3 separate regions of the Homo sapiens genome follow, and all the other regions are linked to region 1. Evidence: fine-mapped expression QTL. A gene starts in region 1. Each other region holds a variant in brackets. All regions are shown on one strand. Distances are between the middles of the regions. Region 1 holds the start of HOXC4 (homeobox C4). Region 2 holds the start of LOC100240735 (a long non-coding RNA gene). Region 3 holds the start of LOC124902939 (a long non-coding RNA gene).

What was found. PIP is the estimated chance that this variant, and not a neighbour inherited with it, causes the effect.
Region 2: its variant is fine-mapped to the expression of HOXC4 in whole blood (TOPMed, PIP above 0.99).
Region 3: its variant is fine-mapped to the expression of HOXC4 in unexposed skin (GTEx, PIP 0.99). The same link has a PIP of 0.9 or more in subcutaneous fat and tibial nerve.

What each region holds. Positions count from the first base shown.
Region 1 is chr12:54,049,915-54,058,088 of GRCh38, reverse strand. HOXC4 (homeobox C4) reads right to left here and starts at 4,254. Exons shown (of 2, transcript NM_153633.3): 1 at 3,728-4,254; 2 at 2,059-3,239. The coding sequence starts at 4,166. The coding sequence ends at 2,884. RefSeq lists enhancers at 1-438, 5,040-5,199, 4,495-5,476, 5,477-6,458 and a cis regulatory region at 3,963-4,463.
Region 2 is chr12:54,077,643-54,085,816 of GRCh38, reverse strand. The region is part of intron 1 of FLJ12825 (a long non-coding RNA gene); the gene reads right to left. It overlaps LOC100240735 (a long non-coding RNA gene), which reads left to right and starts at 3,994. Exons shown (of 3, transcript NR_026658.1): 1 at 3,994-4,178; 2 at 5,473-5,590; 3 at 6,377-6,978. RefSeq lists an enhancer at 4,461-4,680 and a silencer at 5,978-6,272. The variant A/G (reference allele first, on the strand shown) is at 3,705.
Region 3 is chr12:54,013,795-54,021,968 of GRCh38, reverse strand. It overlaps LOC124902939 (a long non-coding RNA gene), which reads left to right and starts at 4,222. Exons shown (of 2, transcript XR_007063323.1): 1 at 4,222-5,165; 2 at 5,616-5,956. It also overlaps a transcript of HOXC4 not described here, a transcript of HOXC5 not described here and a transcript of HOXC6 not described here. RefSeq lists enhancers at 31-240, 308-3,515, 3,447-3,516 and silencers at 3,557-3,826, 3,897-4,066. The variant C/TCCAGCTAC (reference allele first, on the strand shown) is at 4,512.

The DNA of each region.
Region 1 (8,174 bases):
AGACTGGCCCCCCACATCCCAACCCTGCCATGCCATTCTGGGTTGCCAAGTCCAAGGCAAAGGAGAGCTTTGGGGAAAGGGGAGAAAATGGAGCCCACTGGAGGGAAGGCCAGAGGCCAAAATCTTCAAACTCAAATGTAAGGGATTTTAGTTTGGGTTCATTTGTCAAGAATTATGGATTTCTGATGTTTCCCCTTTTCAGACCAGAAAGAACAGAAGGAGACACATGCAGAATGACCATGTATGTGAGGGAAGAGGAAGGAGAAGAAACAGAAGACATAAAGAAGGGGAAATAAAATAAGTGTTCTGACCCTTTTATGCTGCTTTTCCTGAACTAGAGTGTCCCTTCTGCAATTTCAGGGAGAAACTTAGGAAATAAAATGTAGTAATTTTCCCCCTCCTCACTCTCATCTCTTCCACTTTCAGGAGGAGAGGGATAAACTCCCTGAAAGCCACGCGAGCAAACTTAGGAAAGAACCATGGATCTCAATTTACCCCTTCCCTGCTTTCCATCTTAGCTCCTTTACAGGCTTGAAAAGACACCCTGGTGCCCTTAGACCTTCCTTCCCTTTTCCTAAGCACAGCTAGAACCCCCTTTTTCTGTTCCAAGGGCAATCGCCTCAAGACGATAGGGGCTACAGTCAGATTTGGCCCCTAATTCACTTGATTACATAAAAAACTCCAGATAATTGTTGGCCTGCCTCCTCATACTGTAGGCAGCATGTTTTGTTGTCTCCAGGGTACCACTGAGGGAGGAAAAGTAGACCTAAAGGACTAAGAGACTCCCCCCAACACACACACGTGTGAGGGCATGCATACACACACACACACACACACACACCAAGTAACAACCAGCAAGTGGTTCAAAAGGAAATAAATTCAAAGCACACCAATGTGATTTGTACAACTTAGTCCTGCTGTTGCCTTTCACTCCAGAATTTGGGGATAGGGGGAAGGGGTATCCCTGGCTTCCCTGCATACCCTAGATCTCTTCTCCCTCTGTCTTCTACTTCTAATTGCCTTTCTTCCTGAAATATGGATAAATCGTCCGAGAAGAAGGTCACCAACAGCCCTCCTCCCACCTTCTCCTAACAAACAAGCAAAAAATTAAGCAGGCCTTGCTAGGGCCTGGATCTCAGGACCAGAATTATTTGGGAGCCTTTGGCTTGAATGTATTCAGGTAATCCAGGCAAGATTTTTTGTTTCTTTTTTAGCCCCAAGGAAACAAATTTATTTAATTAATTTATTTCTTTACAGCCAGAGAAACTTGTTCAGGCTATCCCCATACGCTGCCAGGACCTGGGAGGTTATAGGAAGAGAGGGTGGTCCTTGACTCTCCCTAAGTCTCTTCGCAACACCTGGCAGGTCCATAATAAAAGTTAGAGAATAAAAAGGTAAAAGTCTTTTATTATCTCCAGGCATCAGCCTTTGAGGCCTATCCATAACAAGGGTACCTCCCAGGCCTCTGGCCAGTCTTTTTTCCAAGCCTAAACAAACAGAGAAGGCATCCTGACAGGTGACTTTGCTGCTTCAGAGTCACCAGCTCAAAACCTTCCTTCTTTTAAGAACTCAAATGTTGAGGGGATGTCTTCCTTAATCCCTCATCCCAAAAGAGCCCTAAAAGATGAAAGAAAACTATTCTCCTTCCCACTCCCTAAACTTGCCCCCTTGTCTACAAAGTAGGCAGGCCTACTCAGCACAGAGGAGGGAGAAGGGAAGAGAGAGAAAAGACAAAAAGAAGAAACTGTACCTAACTATAGAAAAGTGAGACACTCCCCACCCTCAGCTCCACTGAAGTGCCCCCAGAGGAGTCTGGTCTCTCTGCAGACTCAGGGGGAAGGAAGGGGACTGGAGAAATCAGCCTTAATCTTCCACATCCCCTCTTCTGAAGATCCCATACCCCAACCCCCTTGCTTGTTCTTCTAAGGACATTGGAAGACTAATGGAGAGCTAAGATTTGTGTGTTTGTTTAAAGTAAACTTAGGCAACTATAGAGAAGATGGGATGTTACCAGGCCAGAGAGGGAGGGGAATAAAAAGAAACCATCAGACATTGACGTAAAACTAATTCACATCCACTGGTTTATTATTGATCACGGGGCATTTCACATCGACACTAAAATTCTTTATTGCAAGTTTTACAATAATCAAGTAAATTCAGTCCAAAAACACAATAACCACGATAGGGGTGGGGAGAGATTCTACCTATAGACTGCCTCTCTGAACTGAAAGTTCATTTTGATTTTCTTTTGGCTCCTCAAACTGAACAGCTCTGAGAGGCTCTCCAGATGCATTTAGCTTTGTCTGCTGTCTTCGCCCCCTCTCCTCCCACACCCCCCCCCAACAATAATACAAAAGAACTTCATAGCTTTGTTCTCCTTAAAATGACTTCCCCCTCACTAACCTCCCCTGGTGCATTTTCAATGCAAAAGGCCTAAGGAAAGAGGGGGGGAAGGAGGAGGAGGAGAAGGATGAGAATTGGCTTTAAAATTTCTTTCCTTTTTTCTTTTCCTCATTTCCCCTGAAATTCACCCAAGCCAGACCATCACACCTTGCAATATATAATTTTTGCAGCTTTTTTTCTTAAAAAATAAATAACCCCCCAAAATGGCCTTTTAAAAAAAAACACCCAGCAGGTACCATGCTAAGACAACATCACATGCTTAAAAGGGTCCTTAACAGTGGGAGGGAGAGGAGGGCAGGGGGCTTGTTTGTTTATCTGTTTTGTCTGTTTGGAACTGACAAGGGACAAGGTGAGAGGAAGAGAGAAAAGAACCTATATATATATATATATATATATATATTAAATTCTATAAATAAGAGTCAATTTGTGTGTGAGGGGAGGGTGGGGGCATGGGGTGGGGGCAGGGGTGTGAGTTATGTTTTATAACCTGGTAATGTCCTCTGCCCGTTGCTGCTCCGGCGGCGTGGCGCTCTGGGAGTGGTCTTCAGAAGTACCCGGGGTAGCTGCCGAAAGGGTGCTGGGCGCAGCGCCGGCCGGGGGTGCTGACCTGACTTTGGTGTTGGGGAGTCGGTGGTCCTTCTTCCATTTCATGCGACGGTTTTGGAACCAGATTTTGATCTGCCTCTCAGAGAGGCACAGCGAGTGGGCGATCTCGATCCTTCTCCTTCGGGTCAGGTAGCGGTTGTAATGAAACTCTTTCTCTAATTCCAGGACTTGCTGCCGGGTATAGGCTGTCCTCGAGCGCTTGGGTTCCCCTCCGTTATAATTGGGGTTCACTGGGGGGAGGGGAAAAGCAAATAGTGGGGTTCAGAGGCAGCAGGCTCCCCGCCCCCCACCCTCACCCCATCCTCAGCTCTGAGAAACAGGAGGAGGGAGTGGTGGAAATAAAGTCATCAAGCTTAAATGGGTTATAAAGAAGTTGAAGGAAGCTGAAGACTTTGTAGTGTAATAAGAGGGGAATCCTCATTGTAACGACACTGAATTATTTATGCGCCCTTAGAAAGCGAGCATAGTTTTCACACATACATAACAGATCGTAGCACATGGCTCGGACTGCCCAGAGTAGCTAAGCCATAAAATTTATGGGGGATGTAATTACCCATTCTCGCTCGTAAATCCAGTTCAATTGTGCTAACCCAGAGTCGCTCCTGGAGAGAGAGGGGGAAGGAGAGAAAGGAGGACGGGGGCCAGAGGGGGCCGAGGAGGGTGGGGAGCGCTAGGGAAGAAGGGAGGGAGGGGGGGAGCAAAAAGCAAAGTTGCCTACCCGTGCTAACGTGAATTTTTTTCATCCATGGGTAGACTATGGGTTGCTTGCTGGCGGCGCTGGAGGGATGGTCGGGGGCTGGCTGGCTGCAGGCTGGCGGGGCTGGGGACGGGGAGGCGGAGGCGCCTGAGAGAGGCGCCGGCTCGCAGAGCGACTGTGATTTCTCGGGGTGGTGGTGGCCCGCCTGGGCCGGCCCGTGGCCTCGCGAATTGCCGGGCCCCTGGAGACTGGTGCAGCTATACTGGCGCTCAGGGTAGCTAGGGCGCGGAGGCGGTGGTGGGTACAGCTCCTGGTGGTGATGCTGGAATCCCGATTCCCTGGTCCGGCCGTAATATTCCGGACTGTGTTCAGGGATGTAGCTATTTTGCGAATATTCTTCGCATGGAGGAAATTTCGGATCGATGTAGTTAGAGTCCATCAAATACGAGCTCATGATCATTAATTTCTGGAGTGGAAAATAATTTTTCTCGCTTTGTCGTTTTTCTGCTCCATAAAGCCCTCCTACTAGCTAGCGACCCTGTAAAGTTACTTTCACCATGTGACTCCTCCGGCCAATCACACGGAGCAACCCAGTCCCCGGATAAGGAACCGAATCGCTTTATTCAAAATGTATCCAATTTTTTTGTGTGTGTGGTGGTGGTGGTGCTGGGAGGCGGGGGTGGGTGGTGATGTGGGGTTAGCTAGCAGAGGTTGGAGTGCCCCCAGTGCACATCCCGCCAGACTGACAACCCTCCCCTGCAAAAGGAGATGGGAAGCTCCCGGCTCCCCTCCAAAGCCCGGGCATTGGGGGACTGTCGGGAGGCAGTGATTCAGCCCCCGCCCAGGGTCTCCCCTCAGGCCTCTGCTGGGCCCCGTGGGCCTCGGCTCCTGAGCTTTTCCAGAGGTCTCCATTCATGGCGATCGTGTCTCAGTCTGTGTAGGTCACGGGGCAGCGCCCCTCTTTCGCAGGAAGAGGAAGTTGAATGAGGACTGGAGTGGATGTTGGATGGGGAGGGGCCCAGGCTGAGCCGAGGAGGCTGGAGAGCCTGGAGTGCCCCCCATCCAAGGATACCAGAGTCCAGCCCCTCTTCCCCATACACACTCACCCAACCCTCTGGCCATGCGGCCGGCGAGGCAGGGTCCCAGCTGGACCAGGCAGGTAGAGGCAGCGGGATGCAAATGATTCTGACGTCATTTCTGGAGGTCTGGGGGTTGAGCCCCCGCTGAAGAGAGACAGGAAGTGGTTGGCAAAAGCAGAGTTCAGAAGTCTCGCCTTCCCCTGCTACCCACTGACCCTCCCTGCCCCAGCCCCAGAGCAGAGGATCTCTTCTACTGCTGGCTTCTGTTTCCACTCCCCATTCAGCCCGGCCTGCTATTTTCTGACAATTATCTCCAAGGAGCTGGGGCAAGGAGGAGAGCTTTCTGCCAGGAGTCAGTGCCCTGTGATGGTGCCCAGCCAAGATCCTGAGAGTTCTTTCTCTGTCCCCACAGAGGGCAGACCTAGCTAAGAGGGAGGCCTGTGTGGGTAGAGCCTGCTTGCTTCTGGCTAGGAGCTGTATCCATGTAACACGTGTGTTTACATGTAAACACGAATTCCTAAAGGCCAGCTCCAGGCTGCTTTCCAAAAACGGAAGGCTAAGCTCACCAAGTTGGGGAGGCACGGCCAGCCTTTGGGGTCTCCAGCCCATTCACACCCCCTGCTCTCTCTCTGCCACCCACTCACAGTAATACTCTGATGGAGGGGGGTGACAGGGCCGTAGAGGAGGGAGGGGGCCAGGAAAAGCTGCTTTCCTAACCACCACCCCCCCCCCCCAGCTAGGGGTGGTCCTGTCATGCCACCGATTCCAATTAACTGATCGCCCATAACTCAGAGTTGCGGGGGGTAGCGGAGGGGAGAGCCCAGGGAGGGAGCCGGGTCCCCTTGTTGTACTTGATAACAATTATAGTTTAAAATCATAGCTTGCCAGGGCTCAGCTATATTTTACTTGATAACAATAAAAGTGACACATAAAGTTAACTGTTTATGTTTTATTTATTAGACTAAATCTGCCAGCGGTGGTAGGAGCGCTTGCCTCGTCGCTACAGCTTTTATAGGGCTGTAAAACGTCATAAATCAGTCTCGCGGAATCGCCCGCACTCTTTGTGTCGGCGGCGGCGCAGGGCTGGCGGCCGCTGGCTGCCTGCTCCCTCCTTTCCACGAAAAGTCGTAATGTGATTTTTTTTCCCTCTGATTTTATTATTATGATCGCCGCCGTGATTAGTCAATCTACCTTTAATTCGCCGCCCTACGCTACCTCCTCCCAGCCCAGCCTGGTTGACACTTGAATAAGTACCTTTTAAAACGGCATAACAACTATTTGAGGGTTTAATTAGAACATCTGCAATTAAGGGAATGAGGAGGGGAAAGGGAAAAAAAAAATAAAGCCCTTGTGAGAGGGAGACTGAAGGCAAGAGATTCCAATCCTTTTCTCATCACCTTTGGGATGTTGGAGAGGGTCCCCACTTCCAAATTAGGGCTTCCCCAAAGGGCTGGAATGAGAGGGAAGCTGGACCCACAGCCGTGCCCAAAGGGTGCGGATTCCCGCCTGGGCCCTCGTTGCCTTCCCTCCTCCAATGCTTAGGCCCCCAGCCCCACCCCAGGCTCAGCAGGGCCAGGGCTTAGCTCCCAAGGAGCTGGTGCTTGGTGGTCCCTGAATACTCTCTCTCCAAGAGGACAGTGCCCATCCCCACTGTAACCAGGCCAGGTGAAGGAACAGGAGTTCCCCAGAGGCTGAACACCTCTAATGGAGATTCCCAAATTCTCAGAGTTGGCTGAGAACCCTTGCCCACTCTTGTCCGGAACTCTCTGCATGTGAGGACAGGCTGGTTTGGTTGGAGAGGAAGTTGAGACTGTGAGTGAGGGGGCGGAGGAAGGCTACTGCTTGGTTAATAGTGGTTTGGGTTGTGTGGGGTTGTCTTAATCATTGGTGGTGGGGGTGGGTTCATTATAAATTGCTGGAAGAGGGCAAAGGGAAACCAGTGCTGAATCCTAGTACCTAAGTCTGAACTGTAGTCCCAGATGGCTCCACCGGGAAGTCCAAAGCTCAGCAAACTTTGGTGCCATGTGGAGAGGGTTGATGAAGAGGGAGGAAACCTTCCCGGCCCCACTCCCAGTCTCCCTTCTAGGCCTGTACCTGGATGCGGCTGCCTCACCTGGAAAGGTGAGCTGTGAGCCTGACTCTCATCCTCTCAGCCCTCACACTCACCTTTTACCATCCGTGCCCTGACGCTAACCCTCTTTTCTTCAATCTTCACCCTCCTGTACTTGTTAAGGAGTCCTCCCCAATATGTTGCCTGTCACATCCCACCCCCGCCAGGTTTCTGAGCTTCTGCAGGGGGGTCAAGGAGACTGACTTTGGGCCAGTATAAGTAGTAGACACAGAGGGTTCAGATGCCCCCAACTGAATGTCAAGTCTGTCTTTGGTTATTATGGTTAACATATATGCGTGCACACTATTAATATTTATTAATATATTAAATGCCTCTTTATGCAGCTATAAATATGTAGAGTTTTCATTCCAGGTTCGTGCAGCTAATTCAACATGCACATCCAGAAAGTGAAATCTCCAAGATTCCCCCAAATGTGCCCACACTCATCTACATCATTTACAAAACAACAACAGCAACTCTCTTTGGGCTCCTATAGCTTAATAGCAAGGAAGTCGCCTGTCACATGGGTAAAATACCACACACATACACACAAACATTTTCACCTGGATATTATTACAAGCACAGAAATAAAATCCGTTGGAAGGGCTTTTGCACTTAGCAATGGCTTAATTGGGAGGGGGTGGGGGTACTAAAGCAGCTCTCATCTGTGATGAATCCTTGTATCTGGTCCTGTCTTCTTTTGTGTTTCACCCTCCTGCCTCCCGCCTTGCTGGCCCAGGGGCTGCACCTCTGCCCTGTCCTCAACCTCACTTTGCCCCAGTTTTATTTATTTTTATTTTTTCTGACTACCTTTTGCCAGCATCCAAATGCTCTCTGCAATTGCCCCTCCACCCCATCTCCTTTCTAAATCTCGATTTGGTTTCTCTTTCGGAAACACGTTTCAGTACAAAGCGCTTCCCTTCTGACATCGCTGAAGAAAAATATGTGTCCATTGTGTGTGAGGCCTTATTGTGCCTGGATTACCATACTGACCGTTGGATAACCCATATTCCTCCCCTCCCCAGTAACAAGCTGCCGGCTGAGAGAGCTCAGCGGCTCCATAGATTCTCTGCTGCATTAAAATCGTACCCCTCTCTGATTTTTCCAAGGGAGAAAAATAAATGGGTGAACCAATTCAGGATTTGGAGGGCAAAGGGAAGGAAAATGAGGGTCATTCCTTTCCCTACTCTTTGAAATGCAGGGTTTATGTGTGTGAATGTTGTTGTTGTTGTTGTTTTAGGGATTAAAAATTGCAACATTTCTGTTTCCTTTCACTCAT
Region 2 (8,174 bases), 28 kb before region 1:
ATGTTGGCGTGGCTTGGAGAAAGAGTGAGTGAGGTCTGGGCTGAAAGATGAGATGACTCCATGGACCACCCCCTCGTGGAGCACAAAATGGTGATGTGCTGGCAAGAGCCACTGGCTCCCTCTGGACCAGACAGGCACTGAGAGATCCATGGGGGCTGGGCCCTCAGGTGTCCTGTAGAAAGTGGTAGTGTTCTTAGAGCAGTTTTCAGAGCAGCCCCTTGGCCTCAGGGAGGGACGCAGGGCTCCTTTTCTGTGAGAGAGAGAGAGTTGGGGAAACAAGGAGAGAGGGCTTCCCATGGCCCTGGTTTCAGGGTATTGACCTGGGTTTGAATAATGGAGATAAAACTTGTAGGAAATAACAGGTTTAAGCCACTCTCCCCTCATTTCCTACTTCTGTCTCTTCCTCTAGGTACAGCTGTTGGGAGCTGCCTCTCCTGCCCTCAATCTCCCTGCCTGTAGTTCCAGAGGGAAGAAGAGGGGGAAAAAAGGATGAAGAGAATTATTTCAGTGCTGGGGGAGGTGAGCTTATAGCAGGGATTTAGATGGGAATTACCTCATGGGATAGGAGCAATTTTCTCCCTCTCCAGGCCTCTTACAGATGTGAAACAACTGGCAGATCTGACTTTCCCACCCCTAACCATCGGAGGGGATGATGTGTCTTGAAACCTGTGCCTCTCGATTGAGAGGCTGGTGGGGGAAAGAGAGGTCAGGAAAAGGGGCCAGATGTGTGTTCAGGGGTCCCCAGAGAGTTGAGGGAGACTAGCATCTCCTTAGGGTAAGGAAGGCAAAATGCCCATTCCTGATCCCAGATTGCTTAGATACTGTGCCTGGGTGTCCTCCCACCTCGCCTTAATTCCTGTCTCCACACACAGCTTGGCCAAGTTTCTTCCCCTGTTGGAGTCTCACTCCCAATCCCCTACTCTATCTCTCCAGGAGCCTACAAAGCACTTTGAAATCTGAAGTTTGTGGGAGGTGGCTGTATTGCACAAATACTCTGAGGTGCAACATGACTTGACTGGTAATGAGGCAACCATCCCACCTAGGGCAGAGTTCAAGGACTGCCTTCAAGAGGGGCTGGCCTCAGTTTGCCTGTTACAGAAGCCAAGGGCTAACAGAGACCGCCCTCTGCCTCATAAAGAAGGAGATAAATGGGTCCACTGGAGAGCAACGGTCACAATCAAGTCTTAATGATGAATTAATAATTCATAATTACCCCAGACTTGCAGATAAGCACAAGCCCACTGGAATTATTTCCCAGGGAGGAACACAGTCAGAAAGGGTAGGAAGGGGACTTCAGTACAGACATTACTTCCAGAGGCCATTAAGTTCATTCCTCTGCTTCCCAACCAGAACCTGGAAGAGATCCATTAGCTTCCTTGGCTGATTTCTCCTAACAGCTACCACCCCCTGAGCTTCTAAACAGTGCCATATTGCCCCTCTGTTCTTCATAAGGCCAGAGGACCATTCCTGCCAAAGTGACCTCAGAGCCTGGACTCTGGATTTCTGGGGTCTCTCTGTTCTCTGCTCCCCATTCTGCTATTTACATACGAGGTCCCCTGTAGGAGGGCCTGGTGCTAGCTGTCCCGGCGAGATGTGGACATCTTTCTGGCTCTTCTCCTTCTCTTATCTAAGTCCTCACACAGTGGGAAAATACCTCTCCAACGCTATGTAGAAAGAGAAGCAGGGAGTGCCCCTTCTAGCGTGCATGCCTTTGGTTCCCAGATCTGGATTTGAGGGGCTGGCTCTATTTCTTAAGAAGACATTTACCTAGCATCGATCATGGAGATCGGGCCTAAATAGGGCTAGGGAGGCACACCCAACTCCAGACCCAGCTCTCTGCTGTTCCCCTTCCCAGTGCACACGATCCCAAATTCCCACTCCAGAAAAATTTTTAAAAACATATCTTAAAAAAACCTCGAAGAGCCAAGCAGACCCTCAGCTTCAAGGTATCTCCTCATTCCCTCTCTCTCTCTCTCTCTCTCTGTCTCTCTGAATCTACAAAGAAGGAGTGAGTTTTGTCTCTCCAAGTACTCAGAGCCTTAGATCACAAAGGGGCCTTAGATTCTGGTCTTTAGGAGATCTTTAACCACCATCTCTGCTGTGGCACGACCTTTTTCAAAATGCTAGAAAGAAGAGAGACTGGCTCTTAGACCAAGGGGATTTGGGATTCGAAAGGACTTCCAATTCCAGTTCTATAGATTTCCTTCCCATTAGCCTCTTCATGTGCATCAAATGTAAATGGCAGGCTAAACCTTCAGGATGAAGAGAGTTGAAAGACTGCTGCCTAAAAATACCCTTGTCCAAATCTGTGGGTGCAGAAGCACATTGAAAAGCAGCTACCCAGCCTGGGGGTGTGGCACATGCCTGCAGTCTCACATACTTAAGAGGCTAAGGTGGGAGGACTACTTGAGCCCAGGAGTTTGAGGCTTCAGTGAACTATGATGGTGCCACAACACTCCAGCCTGGGAAACAGAGCTGGACCCCATTTCCAAAAAAAAAAAAAAAAAAAAAAAAAAGTAGTTACCCAAGTAAGGTGGATGATCAAGTACACCCAGTGAGAAGCACACAAACCTTACCCTTTACCCAAACTCTCTCCCTTACCTGGCCCATTTCCGGTCTCTAGAGGAGGATCAGTTAGGGGGTGTGACCCAAGTTACCCAGATAATTAACGGTGGAAGCACGAGTTGTTTTTTTTTTTTCCCACTCCTTTGGCCTCTAAATATGAGAGATCTTTACATCTCTTGCCTAGCTCCCTCTTATTCTCTACCCTCTCCCCAACACGCACACAAATCCTAGCAACAAAAAATCCCAAATATAGGAAGACAAACCTTCCTGACCTACCATTTTGGCCCACCTGCAACCCCTGTCTCCCGCCCCCCCCCCCCAATTTTTTTCTCTCCTGAGCCTCTGCTCTTCGCTTCTAAAATAAAATAAAAAAAAAGAAGAAGGAATTTTCAATAGTCCCACTTGTCAAGCGAAGACCATCTTTTAACCTTCAACAGCAGCGAAAGCCGTGTGAACTCTCGGTGAACCAAGATTGAAGTCATAAATCACGCGTACAAAGGCGGCTGCGGAGGCTGGCGCGAGCTGCTGCACCTTTAACGCTTTCTGGGGCTGACAGGCGGCGGCCCAGCTAAAGTTCACAGCGCCAGGGGAGGGCCCGCCTCCGCCTCCCCTCCCGCCCCCGCCTCCCCTCCCCCAGCCCGGCCCCGGCCCCGGCCCCGGCCCCGGCCCCGGCCCCCGGCCCCGGACCGGCCCGCCGCACGGCCGCCTGAGCTGCGAGCTGAGGAGGCCCCTTGGCTGTTCCCGCAAAGGGCGGGGGGCTCATTTTCTCTACTGCCAGCCCGCTCCATCCTGGTCGTTTATTCCTTGCCTTCCCTCACCCCCCACCCACACAGCCTGCTGTATGTAAATAGGCAAATAGATCTACACGGACACAATAATTTAGCTCGTTTGGTCTTTGGCATTTTCTACAAGACCCCAAGAGATGGACTTTCCTTTCCCCTTCCTCCTTTTAGAAATGGCATCCTTCATCTCTGTCTATGCAGGCCCAATTATCCAGATCCTCGGGGCTCCAATAGGGTCTGAGTCATTGGAACCAGGAACACCTGGCTGAAACATGCCACATAATTAGATTTTCTTTTTCTTTACCTTTTCTTTCTTTTTTTTATAAGAGGGCCAGAATTAGCCTCTTCGACTGGGGC[A/G]GAGTAGCTGGGGTGTGGAAAAGGAACACCTTCATACAACTTCCAGCTTTCAGCCCCTTGGAGAGATCTCCAAGTTCCCCCGAGCCGCCAGGACTTCCTTTCCTCGATCTCTCGGCCGCCTTCTCCTCCTTCTCCGATCGTTTTTTTTCCCCTCCCCCCACTGTCTTCTCTACGGTTTAATTAAAGTTCAGCGACTCCACTTGCCTCTCCTCTCATTTCTTTCGGAAAGCGGAAACCAGACGACCCAGCGGCCACGGGACGAGCCGCCCCAACTCAACCCCAGCAGGACGCTGGAGGGGCCTCCCTCGCCCGCCTGTCTTCGCCGGCGCTGGTCTCCCGCACCCGGGTCTGCAGTCCCTCCGCCATCTCGCAGGTGTGCAGCCGCTAGGCCTGGGGGATCCGAATGACTGGGGCTGGATAGGAATGCCTTCGTGTTTCCCAAGACCCCCGGGCCTGCTCCACAAAGTTTGAAGGGTGGGTACACCCCGACCCAGGCAAGTTGCTCCCCCAAACCCATGACTGACTAATCTGATATGACAAAAGCCCATGATGGATTTGGTATATGTTAATTCACAATGCCCTTTCCTCCAGAATTTAACTATAAGTTAATACACACCGGAAACCACGCGCATACACGCTCCTTAATGGGCTTAGGTATTAGCGAGTCCTAACGATGCATACAAATGTGCTCTGCGCTCTGTAGGCCCCTCAAGATTTATGGGCCTTGAGCTCTCTGAAGCTGTAAACAAGGAGAAAAAAAAAAGAGAAAGCGAAAGCGACTGGGGGGAAGAGACAGAGGCCTGACTCGCCCCTCCAGGTTGTGGGAGAGAAGGGATTCTTTACGTATTTTCCTTTCCTTGCAAGCTCGGTGCGTGTGGGTTTTGGCGTTGGTCTGGGGGTGGTGTTCTGCCTGAATGCTGGTGTGCATGGGCAGTGTGTTGTTTGGGTGCTGGGGTAGGATGCCTGCCTCTTCGGATTGCTGTGCAGGGGCCTGAACACAGCAGGCATTTGTGAGCATATATGCGTGAGTGTGCACTGTGTTAGGGTGTGTGTGTGTGTGTGTGTGTGTGTGTGAGAGAGAGAGAGAGAGAGAGAGAGACAGAGAGAGAGAGGCAGGCTTCCCCCTGGGCCAGGCTGCTGTCCCCTGAACGGTGGTGAACAAATCTCTAACAACAATCATAATAACAATAAATAATGAATAATAATAATAAAACAGTAGTTAACAGTCCCTCCATAACAGAATAACAATAAAATGCAAGAGGAAATATTTTGAGGTGGAGACAGAAGAAGGAGTCAGGATCACAGCATCTGAGGGGGAGATAGGAAAGGAAGGGAGGAAGAAAGCTTCTTAATATGCTCTTGGCGGGGCTGGGGTTGGGAACCCCTTTCCCAGACAAGGGACAGAAGAGGGGAAGGAGGGCCAGGAGGCCACTCTTTATTGCTTTTTTTCTCAGGCTTCTGCTTTGTGTGATCAGGGAAGGGATCCCACATATGGGGATGGTTAATGGCTTTTGGGACTCTCTAGGAGCCCCTGTTTTAAGAAGGAGGCCAAATGTGCAGGCTCAGGCCAAGGGGCAGAGATGAATGAGGCGATGACCACAGCCTTGATCCGGCAAGAGCTCAGAGATGCCCGGGAAGACGGGAAGACTGGGGGCCCGAACGGAAGCAGAAAAACACTTATGGCCGCTGGGGAGTTGGGAGAGCCAGGCTGGGGCTTCGGCAGGCCCAGGGAAAGTTCCCTTTCTAGGCTCTTTATTAAAAAATTTAGAAGGAGGAGTTGAGGCGCCTTGAATTTTCCTTCGCGAGTTTGGAGACTAGCCGATTTTTCATGAAGCAAGCAAAGACCGCGGTCCCGGATCCGGCAACATCTACCTCATTCTCTCCAGGTACAGTTTTCTGGTCATTTAATTAGTTTGTTTTCTTGGGGGAGATGGGAATCACAGGGGTAGAGATAGTAAGTTTGCTAGAGAGGAAGCCACCCCACAGTTTCGGGTCTAACGAAATCCCTCCTTTAAAAACAATTGTACCCCCAATAAAAATAAAATTAAAGAGGAATATAGAAACACAAATTAGCCAACTTTTTTAAAAGAGAAAAAAGAAAAGAAAATCATCATAACAGATGAGCGTGAGAACTTCTAAAAAATTTGTCACAAACCCTTTCAGAGGTCTGGATTCTTTTTCAGTAGCCGGTGACCCATTTGGTCTGAAAAGAGAAATACACTATCCAGTGAGTCACTTATTTAAAGCCAGCACGCGCACACACACACACACACACACACACACACACACATATATTCAGAAAGCCCTGGGTTCCTTCGCATTTGAGAACAACACCGGGTGGAGGACGCTGCGATACCTAATCGGACAAAACAGCAATAAAATAAGACCGGTGGAAGCGCTGAGCGCAGGGTGCAGGGCTAGGGCCCAGGTTTTGTGTTCCAGGCCGCCGGCGAGGCAGCGGCCCCGGGCGATGGGGCGCCGGGCGATCAGGCACCGGCTGGGGACTCCGCTCGGCCTCCGCAGCCTGGCCTGCAGCCCCTTTCCCCCAGCCTCTGGGCCTCGTGGGCTCTCTCCGCTCCGACGCCTGGTCGGGGCTTCCCTGTTGAGAGGGTTTTAGGCCGAAGGGCCAAACGACTCAAGCCAGACTCTGCTTTTTCATTTTTCTCCCTTAGGCCTCTCCACTTGCCCGAGCTCTCAGCCACCAGGAGACAGAAGGAAGGGACTTCTGGGCTGCGTTGGGAGCGGGCACTGTCCCCTATCTACTCCTGCTCGGTTTCCCAAAGTCCAGCGACATCCGACCCTCCTGGGGGGAAAAATACCAGTACCCAGACACCTCTGCACCCTGTTATATGACTGGGCTTGCTTCAGGAATATCTTACAAAGAAGAAGAAGAAGAAGAAGAAAGAACAGCTTGGAGTCATGTTTACATCTAGTTCTACTGACCGGTTCCCATCTGGAGAGTTTATTTATAACTCCCTCTATAACTCTCTGTTTGGAGGCACTGGTGGCTCTATTGACAGACTGATGTCTAGGAAATATTGCTCTATGTCTAACCGTACCTAAATGTGCTGTGGTTGTATTTACAGATTTATGTTTGAGGGAAATATAATTATTTCCATTGTATTTGTGCATATACAGTAGTTATAGGAGCAGATTTATATATGGGAAAATATACGACTCTCTTACAGCCATCCGGCTTTATGTACATGTGATATCCTGACAGATTTATATCTCTGAACAGCTATATAGATAAAAACGTATATTGTTAGAATTATGTATCAGGAGATATATACTTATTGATTGTGAAATAGAGTAGTTAGAGCATTCACTTAGAGCCATATATGGCTATGGAGATATTTCTATATTATTATCACTATATATAGGCATATCTATTTATAACTACATAGTTATAAAAATAGACATAAATAATTATAGTCCTATATGTGCATGCTGCAATCTCTCTCTAGAGTTATAGACACTTTCAAATATAACTCTATAGAGAGATCTGTATGTATATAAGGTGTAATTATCTTGTGATGTTTTTACGTTGGGACTTAGGCCCGTTTGTCTAGAACAGACATCTTTATATGTAGGGGATGGGAGAGACTTGTTCACAGATATCTGCAGAGGGCCAACTGGAAACACTGTATCTGCCCTCTAGGAAACCAGCTAGGAGAGTTGTGTACTTATGGAGGGATGGAGTTACAAAAGGGTAAATAGAGCTCAGGGAGCCTTAAGGAGGGGAGGTGAATGGAGGGTGGGTGGGCTGGGTTTGAACAGATAGTGGGAGGAAAGGGGTAAACACCAGCACCCACCAGAAGGCGAGAACCGGTTTTGTGAGGGGCTGGCGCAGACGGCTGTGGACAAGGAGCTTGTAAAATGGGAAGCGGCGAACAGTCCCACCACCTCACCCTGAGACACTCTCCACCGAGGAAGCAGCCTTCAGTTTGGCTTTTAGTGCGCTGTAGGATAGGGACTGTCGTGTCCCTCCTGTAGTCCTAGAGCGTTTCTGTTGAACCCTAATTTTTAGGTCTCAAAGAGTGGGCTTCAGAGATAAAGAGGTTTAGGCAGGGACAGGGCGAGGAGCGTGGGGTGTACTTTCACTTTCCGATAAGTGAGGTAATCCAGGAAAGTGAGTTAATTTGGCCAAATAAAGCTTGTTTTTATCTGGGCCTCCTGTGCCTTGGCGGGGATGTAGGATGGGACCAGAATCTAGTGGACTGAGGAGTGAATTTGCAAGTATTGGGCCTGCTCTGATGGGGGCTTGGGGAGGTTGTCCTCACCACCCGCCCTCCTTCTCTGAGGCCTGAGTGGCCTAATTCCCTCTGGGCACAGAGGGACTCCTTCAGCTCCCTAACAGTGCTGCCCTGGGTCTTTTCAGGGAGAATTTGAGTTTAGGAACAGGGAACGTGGACTTACCCCACTAGATCTCACTTCTCCCACTCACAGCTACACCACTCTTACATCAGC
Region 3 (8,174 bases), 36 kb after region 1:
CCTCCCCTCCGAAAGGGAGAATGCAGGAGCTTGTGAGGGCAGGAGGGGGTTGCTGGAAAGGGGAGGGAGTCCGGGGATAGCACAGCACTTTGTTCTCCTGGGCGAGTTCGCTGGTTTGGCGGGTTTCTGACGCAGGGTGGCAGCAGACAAAACAAGTAAACAACTCACAGACACAATAAACAGGAGCGGCTGCGGCGCCGTGGCAGAGGCCGTGGGCTGGGCGAGGGGCACAATCCTGGAGTAATGTCACCCCAGTGCCTGGGGTGACCAAGGCCCAGAAAGCCTAAGGCTGCCCTCCTTGAAGGGCGGGAGGAAGGTGGAAGAAAGCTGCACACCTCTTGGTGCAGCCTGTCTGGACAAGAGTCTTGGGAGGAACCCGATCACCTAGAGAGAGTAGCGGAAAACCCCTCCAGCCCCGCTCTGGTCCCTGCTTTCTTTTATGGGGTTTTCCACTGACATTGATATTTCCCCTCTGCTCTGTCTTTTTGTGTCTCTGGAAGGGAAAAAGGCTGGGAAAGGAGGCCCATCAATTCTCAGCCTTGGTAGCCCATACTCAGTGCTCCAGGCCACAGGCAGCGGGTCCAGCGTCCTCTCCCGTGCTGCCCGGACCAGCCGTCTCCCTGACCAGGTCTTGTCCTGGCTCAGATAGCGACGAGGATTAAAACGCAGTTCATCCAGTAACCAGATCTGGGTATTTGGGGGACCTTAGAGAACTCCCAATCTGCCGCCACGGATGCAGGCAAATCGGGCTGGGGCGGGGTGAGCGGCCGGCTGGGGCAAGCAGGGGGAGAAACAGATATTCACTGCATCCCTACCCCTTTTGGCTTGCCTTTTCCACAAGCTTCTCCAAGCACCCTGGCCAGCAGCTGCCCCAGATCACTGTCCAGAGGCCACCTTATTAACCACTCTGATCCCTTCATCGCTCCAGTGAGGCTTCCAGCGCCAGGGCCCTGACTACTCCGAACTGCTTGCAGCCCCACCATGCCCGTGAAAAGAATCCCGCAGAACTCAATTTCAAGACAACTGGTCTCCCTTGTAAAATAATTTCTAAGTTGGGAGAGTTTGCCAGGAGGTGTGGAGAGAAAGCAGAAGGGATTTAGTATTTCCCCAGTCCAGCTGCTTGGGCAACAAAAGCAATAAGGTCTGAGAAAGCCTTTATGGCATCCATTGGTTACTGGAACCCGCATACTCCGATTCCAGTGAGCACATATTTCCAGCAGAGCATGCACAGAGGGCCTGCTCAGTGCACCCGGTGCCTCCATGAGCCCACTCTCATCTAGTGAGGACTAACAAAATTTTGCATGAACATAAAATGGTGTTTGAGCGAATATAGGCATGGTAATATACAATTAACCACCAAGGAAATATGAGTCTGTATATATTCATGCATAAGCCTGAGTCTGTATATTTAAGCCTGTATATAATAAATATATAACACTCCCAAGCCTGGTTTCAGAACACAGCCAACCCAACAAGGTCGCCTTCTCCAAACAAGGTCGCATTCTGTCGGGATCACAACTGTCAGACCAGGGTGAGAAAGGGTTTGCTCTGCCCAATTCTCCTTAGCTAGGAACCAGCACATGAAATACAGCGGATGGCAGGGCTGACAAAGCCCCTTATAAGGGGGGCAGGCAAGCCTAAGGGTGCCCAAAGAGTGGGCTCAGAGGGGGAGGCTCCAAGGAATGTTGCCAGGCCCTGACCCACAGATTCAGTGTCTCTGCCCCGGGTGTGCAGAGTCCTTGAGCCAGATTCTATTCTCAGCCACCCTGGCTATTATTAGATAATCACAGAAGGGCTCTCCTGCAGGAAGGACCACGTCAGCAGGGAATGTGGCCTGCAAGGAGGCTTAGAGTTGCCACTGGTGGGTCCTCTTGTGCTTCTGTTTGAATGCCAGAGAGGGAGAGAAAGAAGGAGAAGGGAAAGAAAATCGAAAGTAACTGGGAAGCAGAGAGTTGGTGTTGGAGTCCACTGGGGTCCAGTTTATCCCCTGGCCAGAGTGGAAAATGAAAACAGAGCGCCGGTCGCTGCTGCTATGCCTTCTCTGCTTGCCTCTGTCTTGTAAGGATGGGTCTAGGGGTGAAGGGCATAGGATGGGGGTGGGGGAGCTGCAGGGCTGTAGCCAGGAAGGGACAGAAAATCAATTAAAATATTATATAAAGACACCTCAGGATGGTGCTGTTAAGCGGCCAACCTCGAACTCTAGCACCTCCAAATCTCGCTGTGGGTACACTCAGTGAGGTCGTTCTAGGATTAAGAGAAATACCTCAGCCTCGCCCAGGCCCGCCCCTCGGGTGGGAGGGGGCCCTTCTAATATTCTAGGTGAATCTCCACTGGCCTGAATGGCCTTCTCTGGAAAAGGTTTTCTTTCGGGGACGGACAAAGGACACTTGTGTTCCCCCCCATCAGCGGCCATCCACAGGGGCGGGGGCGGACAAAATGCAGGCGAAAGAGAGAAATAGAGGCCTCACCGGTCGGCGATTCCCACATTACTCCAGGAGAAAGGCTCCCTTTTTCGGGCCTCTCGGGCCCCTCTTGTGTCCCACCGCACTCCCTTTGCCCTTTTCAGGTCCCACAGACTCCGGGTTCCGGCCTGCCGCAGGCTGGATCCGCGGGGCATCAGCCACTGGGCCGTGCCTGAGCGGCGGGAGAGCGCGCGGCAGCCTGAGCAGGCGGCGGGCTGGGCCCATTTGGGGAGAGCCAAGCGCTTTTCTCGATCGTAAACAAGGAAAGCGAAATTAGCCCCTCGTCAGACGCCTCTGCCGACACACAAGTCCTACTGGGGGTGGGGGGGTGGGGGAGGGGGAGAGAAAATGCCATTTCTTCCCGCGGGAGAATACCTCAGAGGCCTTTATGATGGCTGCGAAAGGGGAATTTAGCGGGGGCAGAAAAGGAAGGGAAGGGGGTTGTGGGGGGAGGGGAGATAAAATTCACCGTCAGCTCTGGCCCAAACGGTTTGATCTGAATGCAAACTGTATTTTTAAAAATTTGATAAAAACAGGTTTCTTCCCCCATCCCCGCCCCCCCACAGGCGACGGGTCAGGGTTTAAACAGGAAATCGTGGAGCGATCCCCTCCCCCACTGGGACTTGGCGCAGAATCCCAGTCGCGCCTCTGGGAGAGGGTGGGGGTAGAGGGGGTGTCTTGGCTTAGATTAAGGTAAGTCTGGCCCCCAGGTTCTCTCGGACCTCGTCTGGAATATGTTCCCCCACGCCTCCGGGTGTGTCTGCCTGGGTGTGTAGGCGTTTGCGTGTGCGTCGCCGTTTATAAACAGAAATTCACACTTATGGGGCCGCCTCGGAGCCTCGGACCCAGGCCGGGGAGCAGGGCGGGGTCATATATCAAACTGCAACACATTCAGGGCCACGTACATTTGGAAGAAATTAAGCCACTGTGTTATGAAACCATATGCGTCGGGTTAAGACTATACAACAGGCCATTAGCACCAATTATTAGAGAGATCCCGAGTGCCCAGGACCCTCCCGCCGCCCCAGGCTGACGCCTCTACCCCATAAGCCAGCAGCCCCCGGAATCCTCACTGCCTCCACAGCACCTAGGAGACTCTACCAGGAGGACTGGGCCTGTCCCCGCCCAGCCTAGGGCCTTCCCCATTTCCACCTCCCCCCGAGGCGAGGCAGGTCCTAGCCCAGAGCAGCCATGCGTGGCGAGCGGGCATCCCGGTCCAGTGGGCATCCCGGCTGGGATGGCCGCGGCTGGGGGTGAGGGGCGCCGGACCCCGGAAGGGAAAGCCGGTAGGCCTCTTTTCTCTGAGCACAAGATGGCTTTTGAGTACAGCATCCCCCACCCCCACCCTACAACCTCCACCCTCCACCCAACGCAGGGCACCTCCCACCCTTCCATCCGCCCGAGTGGGGGCGGGAGCAGGGGGTGGGCAGACGCTCTCCTCTCGGCTGACGCGCACCAGCCACCAGCCTCCCCCCTAATTGCCAATTAACAGGCCCCGCCGGCCGCCTAGCTGCGCCGGCTTCCTGCTCGGCGGCCCGGCCCTGGGCCCACACTGCGCATGTGTGAGCTCTAGCAGTCGCGCTCTCTGGGAGGGAGGGGGCTGCCAGACAGGGAGGGGAAGCTGGAAAGTTTGTTTGGGGGTTGGGGGGCTAACTTTGCTTAGGGGGCAATGGGCACAGCCTCTAAGTTCTCTCTCCTGCCTGGAGCTTGAGCTTCCAGTTCCGCTCCGACCCAGTTCCATTAGCCAAGAGACCGAAGATCTATAATAAGCAGGTACTGACACAGTGGGCAGCAGAGAGCTGGCGCCCTAGACCGCCGGCTTGAGCCCCACAGGTGCTGTTCCCTTGCCTCCCCACCCCCAACTTGGCACACAGTGACATCAGGACAACACAATCGCCCCACTACCAGTTACCGGTATTCCAGTTTAACCCCGTTTCTCTCCCCCCGCCAATTTTCCTCCCCATAATTAACTACGCGCCCACCCTCTCGCCAGCCCCCTCTTCTCCCTAACCAAGAGAAGCCGCTGCTGTCCTATTCTTGAAACCGCCA[C/TCCAGCTAC]GGACCATTAGTTACATATTTGAACCAATAAGGAAACACTTACCGAGCGCTGCTGTCACTCTCCCTCTCTCCCTCTCTGCCTCTCTCTCTCCCACTCTCTTTCTCGTCTTCCCTCATTCTGTGCCGCTGCCGAGCCTGTCTCAGCTCCACACACACACACATATACTTTATATAAATTCAAAAATAAAAATAATTATAATCATCCAAAAGCCAAACAAAATTAAGGAGAGTTGCAAGAAGGGGGCAGGAGGAAGAGCCTGGGAGAGAGGAGGGGCGGAGGCATCTGCAGCTCCCAAGCTCAACTCCTGCTCCTGCATTCCTCCTGCCCCTTGGGGGCCAGAGGGTCGGGAAGGAAGAGAGAGATGCCCTCAACTTCTGTCTCTCCCCTCCCATCCCCACCCTCCCCAGCTGCCCCCAGCTTCGGCAACTCCACCTGGGAGGAAAAAAAATTAAATGGGGGAAAAATAATTATTAATCAGATTAATTTAAAAAAAATACTGCTAATGAAGGGAGCGCCCAGGGCAGGTTTCCCTGGCAATGGTTAGGCTCTTACAGGGAGGACTGTTCTGCGGAGCGCTCGGAACGGACAAACCACAATAAAAAGTTCACGTTCATGGATGGAATCCACATGACTTCTTGTGGCCAATCCAACTTGTGAGTCGATCGTAAACTTTTATTACTCAGCTGTAAATTTTCTGCAAACAACCGGGAATGCGATGCATTTGTGTAGCGTGTGCAAATGGGCGCCGCGGTCGCCATGTTTACCCAATTCTCTCATAGAGGGAGCATCCCCGGACCCCCACCCCACCCCTACCCCCACCCACCGCCCACTCCCCACGGGCCAGGCTGCTGCAGGCGAGCGCAGAAAGAGCTGAGGGCGGACGCCCAGGCGAAAGAAAGCTTCAAGCACTGAGGGTCGGTTGCCTCTCCTGGCTTGCCGAGTTTTAAATATTGTCCTTAATAAATGGGGGCATTAAGGTTGGATCAGGCGGAATTCAAAGCTTTGCAAAGATTTGTGGCCTTGAGGCAGTGATGGCTGGTGAATTGCAGGGATTGAAAGGGTGCCTCCCTACCCCTACCTTTTTTTTTTTTTTTTTTTTTTAGTAAGAGAACAACATCCCCTCTATGCCGTACCCCTGAAAGCTCCTACTCCACCCTAGACAGGAACAGTAGTGGAAGACCACTGGCAGCCACCCAACCAAACCTGACCTGGAGTGGTCTGAAGAACCTAGGGGACTAGACCTACCCTGGGCAATCCTGCAGTGCAGCAGGAGAGGTGAGAATTGGGGTCAACTTCTAGGACCCTCAAAACGACCCACATCCCCGGGGTCCCTTTCTTAGAGAGAATGACATTTTCCCCCAAGACCATCCCTAGTTTCCCTTCCCAGTTCAAATGGTGGCTTATTTGAAATCTTTTTACAATTAAAAATAAAATTAAAGCCCAAGATCTTGGTCTCTACTTCCTTTTTGCGGGGAGGGGTGCAAGGCAGTAAGCCTTTTGGATCGTGTCAGATTGCCCATACCCACCTGCCTTTCTCAGAAAAATTTCCTGATTCAATGTCTGGGCAGCTGGGATGTACTACCGAGGCCTGAAAAAATAACCTTTTACTGCCCTGAATTCCACCTTCTGTGCTAAAATTTCGAGCAGCCTGTTTTTCCAGACCCCTAATTTTGAAGGTGAGTCCAGAATAAATTCCCCCATAGAGACTATTTGCCGGGGGAGGGGTTGCAGGCAGGTCACTCTCCCCACGGGCTCGAGATTTGAAGGCCGGCATCTCTCCACTTGGTCCCGCATCAAGCTGGCATGGGAATCTCAATGGTTGGGTGCCTCAACCCTGACCAAGAGGGGATACCTCATGCCTTCCCCAGACTTCCTCCATAGTAAGAAAAGCAGTTCCCTAGGCCGGATGCAGGGACCTCGTTTCTTTTCACAAACCCACCCATAAATTTTATAACAGGTAGTTAAAAATTACGACAAGGAAGCGCTGGCCCAGCTTTTCACAATGGGCAGCGGGGAGAATGGGACGGCGCTGCGGGCAGCTCACCGGAAATTTTACTTCTAGACTGTGGCACAACCTGTCCTGAATTCTCCCTAATTGGGCGGGGTAACTTTCCCAGCCAGCAGGCAGTCATTAGGGCATCTTATCTGGGGAAGATAAGACTGGGGAGACCAAACCACTCGCCTATCCAAGGGTCCCTCAAGGAGCCCTTCAGGACGCTCACTACCTCTCTCACCCACCCCCAGATCTCTTGCAGGTCCGCACCTTCCTTGGCTGATGCAATGAGGGAGTGGGGAGGAAAAAAAATTTAATCCAGAGAAACGAATTTGCCCCCCAACTTAATAGCTGCATTATTCCAGCTCTACGGTTGAGATTAGAATAATAAATTCAAGGAGCAATGAGCGAGATGCTTCAACTCAGCATTTTGAAAGATACTATTTTTCACAAATCACAAATGGCTTTCGGAAGCCACTTTGATTGGCTAATAAAAAAGTAAAGAATGGGAGAGAAAGTCCTATCTGCAGCAGCCGAATGGTCCCCATTCCGGTAATGGGACGGCGGGAGCATTTGGGAGGACGCGATTCTAAAGAGAGCGCATCCCGCTCACAATTACGTTCCCCCATAAAACGGGTTTTTACCTCCATTTCTTTCCAAACGAGAAAACAGAGGCGGTGGGCAGGAGGGGTGGGGGAGCGGGTACTGCATGAGGGGGTGGCTGGGGCTCCCTCGGCTTAGCCCTCTCCATGCCTGGCATCTCGAGTAAAGCCGGGCGCCAGACGCACCCCGCCCTCCGACGCGCCGGGCTTGGGGCCACGGACATTGCTGAACAGGACAAGGGATAAATGGCACATTTGGTGTGGGGAAAAGGCGGCGAGGCCCTTCGGAGCCATTTAATGCTGGGTTCATTCCGCTAGGCTACTGGGCCAGATATTTTTATTAATAGCAATCATAATTCCACGTTTAAAAACGAAACGGGACCTCAGCCATCCCTCGGAGTATGGAGGACACGCCTGTGGGAAGGCCTGAGGTCTGAGCGAAATGGCCTCTTTTCTGGCTTCCCTGGTGGGTAGCCGGTGTCTCCCACTGAGAACAGGTTACCTGGCTGGTGCCGCTGCTCACAGCAGGGACCCCAGGTTAGAGAAGATTTCCCGGAGCTCCTGCTCAAAGCTGCCCCAGCTGCCTGCAGCCTGTGCTTCCAATTCACAGCCTTTCTCGGACTGCAGGAGTCCCCCTGTGAAGGAAGCCCGACTCAATTCTCTACTCAGGCCCGATTTTCAGGCCCGGTTTGCGTGGGGACCAGTGACTGGGACCTGGGTGAAATTCCACAAAACAAGAGTTGGCCTGGGCCTAGGTCTGGGAAAATCATTGACCAGGAGCTAGACAGATGAGGGGTGGGGAGGACAGAGAGAGAGAGAGAGAGAGAGAGAGAGAGAGAGAGAGAGAGAGAGAGAGAAAGAAGAGAAGAGAAGAGAAGAGAAGAGAAGAGAAGAGAAGAGAAGAGAAGAGAAGAGAAAAAGAAAGAAAGAAAATCTGGCCTCAAAAATATTTCAGCCTTCGGGGGTCTGGTTTTTAAGACCAGAAGATCCCTCCCCTCCCTTTTCCCCTCTCCTGACTGAGTCAGAAGACTTGTATCTCTGGAATTTGGGATTATTTGACCAGAATC